2 separate regions of the Homo sapiens genome follow, and region 2 is linked to region 1. The links come from fine-mapping of genetic effects on gene expression. Tissue or cell type: whole blood. Region 1 holds a variant in brackets; the other region holds the start of a gene. All regions are shown on one strand. Distances are between the middles of the regions.

Evidence for each region. PIP is the estimated chance that this variant, and not a neighbour inherited with it, causes the effect.
Region 2: BFSP2 starts here. The variant in region 1 is fine-mapped to the expression of BFSP2 in whole blood (INTERVAL, PIP above 0.99). The same link has a PIP of 0.9 or more in T cells and blood mononuclear cells.

Annotation. Positions count from the first base shown.
Region 1 is chr3:133,446,926-133,449,683 of GRCh38, reverse strand. BFSP2 (beaded filament structural protein 2) reads right to left here. Exons shown (of 7, transcript NM_003571.4): 2 at 2,285-2,367; 3 at 1,039-1,195. The region is part of intron 2 of BFSP2-AS1 (BFSP2 antisense RNA 1); the gene reads left to right. Among named protein-coding and RNA genes, the nearest start is that of BFSP2-AS1, 43 kb to the left of the region's middle. The variant C/T (reference allele first, on the strand shown) is at 1,165.
Region 2 is chr3:133,398,725-133,401,352 of GRCh38, reverse strand. BFSP2 (beaded filament structural protein 2) reads right to left here and starts at 1,297. Exons shown (of 7, transcript NM_003571.4): 1 at 781-1,297. The coding sequence starts at 1,269.

The sequences.
Region 1 (2,758 bases):
CTGGTCTTGAACTCCTGGGCTCAAGTGATCCCCTGCCTTGGCCTCTCAAAGTGCTGGGATTACAGGCTTGAACCACCATGCCTAGCACCAAGGATGCATTTCTTAGGTTGGTCTCCACAAGCCCAGGCCCAAAGCAGAAATCAAAATAAAACAAACAAACAAACAAACAAACAAACAAACAAAAAACCACATGTATACATATGTAACTAACCTGCACATTGTGCACATGTACCCTAAAACTTAAAGTAAAATAAAACAAAAACAAAAACAAAAACAAAGTAAGCAACAACAGCACAGGGCATTTATGCATAAAGCCAGACAAGGATGAAAGAGACTTAAAAGATAACTTTGGCATCTCTAAATGGTTACTGTTGGAGAGTAGTCTTAAATCACTGAGCTAAGAACAAGAAGAAATGGGCTTACAGTTGCTGGTTAGCTTAAGTTGGTCTCAAGAAAGAACTTCCCAATGTGAGCATCGTTAAGTGGGTTTTGACTCTTTCAACTTGAAGCAGCCTAAATCTTGGATCAGACAGTAATATGTGTGAGGTGGTTTAGAATTGCTGAAGTCTCGCAGGGAACTAGACCCCATAACTGTTGGAGGTCCTCTTCAGTTCTGTCACTCAATAATCTGACCCAGTTTTGTTAATGAGTAGATGTCAACCACAGCTTGGATCTACCCTCAGAGTTGTTTTGTTTGTATAATACAGTGTTGAAAAAAAAACCTGACATAGAATGCATTGAGGAGGGGTTGCTCCCTCTAATTTAACACAAGTTCCCTCATTTGCTAGTGCCAAGACTGGCTGCCTTCCCCTGTTTCTGTACCACACTGGTTCCTGAAGCTATTTGAGTTTGAGACTGCTGGGGTAACCTGACCCACTTCAAGGATCTGAAAGTATTTTACAGGTATGTTCCCTGCAGTCCTGGGCACGCAATGTGGAGAGTCAGAAATGAGCTACTGTGGCCTTGTTATGAAGCACAGGCAGACAGATGTGAACTTCTGGTCTTGTGGCCAACCCAGCAACCCCAGCCCCCTCCTACCTCTTCATAGTTTCTTGATAGAGAGCCAAGTTCTTCTTTCAGACTTTCTATTTGACTCTCCAGGTCCATTTTAGTCAAATTAGCCTCATCAATGACTTTATACAGAGAGTTAATTTCCTCTTCTGC[C/T]GCCTTTCGAAATGGCTGCTCATTTTCATATCTGCAGATAAAGGAACTTAATTAGCATAACTGAGTAGCCCAAAAGAAAAAGAATCAGATTATAAATGTTACCAACAGGCCAATTATGTGATAGTTAGACAATGAATGGTAAAAGTCACTGTTTCAATAGATTTGAGGGCACTGTTAGTGCAGTTGTCACACATTGATTTATTAAAATGAAGGCAATTGCAGCCAACTTCTGATAACCTGGCTTCCCGGGCTACCAGCCTCATGGGAGTGTTGCAACACAGAACTCCAGGGAAAACTCAGGAGTTCAGATCCAGGTTAGGGGATCCGGCATCTTCATCGCTATCCTGATTGTCCTCCTTTTCAACCAAGGATCCTTTAACAAACATTACTGACAACCTGCTAAGCACCAGGGTGGGGACCCCAAAATAAGAAATGTGGTTTCTGTCTCCAAAGCACCCATGTTAAAAGTGTCCATCTCCAGGAGAGTGGCTGCAAACCCAGATGCCTTCAGGGACTGAGTGGGAGGTGTAGCTGAGCACGGTTCTCAAGCCTGGATGCACATTAAGTCACCTGGTGAGCTCTAAAACTGCTGAAGCCTGGACCCAACCCCTGGGGACTCTGATTTAATTAGTCTATGGCTTGTGCACTGCACTGACATTTTTAAGTGCCCAGGTAATTCTGATATGCCCAGGTTGGAGAATCATTACTGTAAGCTAGTAGTTCTCAAAGTATTTGAGTCCCAGGACCAGCAGGATCAGCATCCCTGGGAACTTGTTAGGAATATAAATTTGGGGCCCTTCTCCAGACCCATTGAGTCAGAAATTCAACAGGGTGGGGCGCAGCAATCTCTGTTTTCTATATGGCCCCTGGGTGATTCTGAGCATTCCAGAGTTTGAGAACCCTGCTCTAAACCAACTGACAGTGGGCAAAATCTTTGAGCCCTTGGGGCCTACTTTATGTTTACAAGGAGGGGTGTGAGCTGGATAATCATGGCTCTGTTATCCTGCCAGCTTCCCCTGAGGTAGAAGGTGGATGATGCAGGCTCCAGAACAGCATTATCCACACTTGCCTAGGAGTCTAGGGATGTGGAGGGACTGTCGCCTCTGCTGTAAGACATTACCTCTCTTTAAAGTCATCTGCTCCGGCCTGGATAGTTTCTGTCTGCAGCATGAGCCGGGCATTTTCCAAGACTGCCTCACCCACCTAGAGCGATCACACACACCAAAGGAGACAAGGTCACTGGGAGCGTCAAGATCACTTACCACCATGACTTGTGTTAGGCACAGAGGCTCTGGGGGACCTCAGAGAACCTTTCTTACAGCAAATATTTGTGGAATTAAGATGTCCCTCTCTTTGGACAATGGTCAGGGTGGGGGGATATAAATAATAAGGCATAAAATCTGGATATCTTCTAAGAGTTTTTAGAGTGGGATTTTTGGCACAAAAAGACTATTCAAAGGCAGACTTGTTCATAGCCTCTGTCACAGTGACAAGCTTTCATCTCTCCAGGGCAGAGTCCGGCTCCTTAGATGAAGTTTCACTGGCTTTGCCTAGCAGCTCTTAAAATTTCTGGTCATGGATGCCTTTGGAAGGC
Region 2 (2,628 bases), 48 kb after region 1:
CTTGATAGCCATATATGGCTAGTGGCTGCCAGATTGGACAGTGCAGATATAAGATATTAATATTTCCATCACGCAGAAAGCTCTACTTGAATGTAAATTACCTCATTAATATATTTTGTATTGATTACATGTTGAAATAACATTCTGGACATATAGAGTTAAATAAGCTATAATATTAACTTCACCTGCTTCTTTTTACGTGTTTTACTGTGGGTAATAGAAACTTGTCAATTACCAATGTAGTTCATATTTCTATTGAACAGCGTGGTTGTAGGTGGATACAGGAACACACCTCCATTTATTCATTGTTCTTAACACCTCATCCATCCAATGGTATTTGATTGGATAATAGCTGTAAAAATCCCTTCTCAACAGTAAAGGTGACTGAGGCAGCCCCAGGGTAATGGGGCAAATGCAACTTTGGAGGCACAAAAATTCAGGTTCAAATCTCATCTCCATCCCTCTACTAGCTTTGAAGTCTTGGGCAAATTACATGCCTCAGTTTCTCATCTGAAAAATGCAATCAGTGAATGATCCACTGCATAGCATTTCTTTGAAGTTTAAAGAAGACAGTGGGTAGTGCACGTATGGGGGCTAGCGTGGGCTCCTAGTAAACCTCGGTAAAAGGTAGCATTGTTGTTATCATTACCATTTTAAGTGTGAAAGTGTAGGGGATTATGGTCAGTTTCTCTGGCCTCAGCCTACTCACAACCCTACCCGCTGCCTTCAGCAGCCCCTCCCAGCCCTCTGCAAAGCCCTTGGCACAGCCTGGACACTTACCTGCTGGCAGCTGCTGGCCCAGGAAGCCCGTAGGGCACCCCAGTTTCCCGAGCGTGTGGCTTTGCTCTCCAGGTGCATCCGCAGTTGTGTTTCCAGCTCCTGACTGACTTGCTCAAGGGCGTGCACTTTGGCCATATATTCCACCAGGCAGCCCCCTAGGTCCTCAACAGCACCATGGTCCCTCTCCAAACCTGGAGCCGGCACGGTGGCCAGGCCTGAGCTCCGCAGGCCCTGAAGGAAGACACTGCTGATGCCGAGGGCCCGGCGGGTCACACGGGCACCCAAGCCACCTATGCACCCACTGGGTGCTGTTCCTACATAGACCCCGGGTGCTCGGACAAGGCCACTCATGGCATTGGTCCTGGAGGCTGGGGGGCTCTCCAGGGAGGATGATGACCGTGGCCCCCTGAAGGACGCCCTGCGCCTCTGGAGGGGCATGCTGGAGCTGGCACTGGTGGGCAAGTCCACTACCACTCGCCTCTCACTCATCACCCCTTCTGCCTCTGTGGTGCCCAGTGGGTTTACAGAGTCCAGTGGCTTTTGGTTTACAGCCCCAGCATCCCTGTGGCCTGGTCACGGGCCTCTCTGGAATCTCCCCTATCCCTGGGGCTGCTTTGTCTGCTGTCTTCCATGAGTTTCCATCATTCACTGAGCTGAAAGAGAAATGGGCACTGCCCAGGGCTGTGTGCAGAGAGGCACTCATGCATTCTTTGATGCAGGGTCATGTGCCCAACCTCCCAGATTATTCTGCTGGTGGTGGGGGAGGCTGGATCAGTGCAGGCTGTGGAGGTAGACCATTTGGGTTTGTGCATTTTACTACCTAAGTGGGCAAGGCAGGCATCAAGCAACCCCATTTTACAGATGAGTAAACTGAGGCTCAAGGACCTCAGATGACAAGTGTACTGATCACTTGCCCCAGACCTCAGATTACAAGCTAGGACTCAATCTAGCTATTTCAGGGCTTTCTACATCCCTATGTGTGCTGGCACATGTGAATGTGAACACATGTCCACACAGGCAATAGAGGATGAAAAATGGCAGGAGGCAGCTCCAGGGACCCAAGAGAAAAGACTTGCCTATGGTTTCCTCTCTCAGTCCTGGCAGCAGCTTCAGGTCCTTCCCTCACCTCTCTCCTTTCCTCCTCATCTCTGTCCTCTAATGCTCTGCTGTTCATCAGCTGCTTGCTGTTGGCCAGGATGCTTCCTCCCTCTGGACCTCACTGTCTGAACATTGGCTTGGGCCTTTAACTCTCTGATGCACCAGATAAGGACCTTGGGCAAATTCAGATCCCACACATGTTCCGGCCATTCCCTACACCTCTGCTTCTCCATCTGTTGGAAAACTGAGAAATAAAAACAACAACGAGGGTGTTTTCTGGTAAGCCTCTCCAAGGGTGCCCCAAGTTAGGATATGATGACACCCCTGGGTTTTAATTATTGACCTTGGCATCCACTAAGCCACCAAGGGTCACACCTCAATCACTTCTCTAGGATCAGAAAGGTTCCCCCAGTTACAGGATGACAACATGGACCTAAAAACCTCTGTACATAAGTTTTACCCTGGAGAAACCAGGTCACCAAACCCCAGAGCTGGATACTTTTCCAGATGCTGTAATGTAGGAATGTACCTCAGGTGAGAGAAGGAGAAGGGAGTCAATCTCTAGTGAGTAGCAGATCCAGCCTGGTGTGTGCATGAATCCTATGGTTTATTTCGTGGAATTCTCAACTCAACCTCAGGAGGAAGGAGGTCCAGGGTTGACAGGTACTGCCATATGGGCTGTGTACCTCACAGCTCTAAAATGACATGTCCTACAGTTGGCCACTGTCCTCTTATGTGAGGAGGACCCCG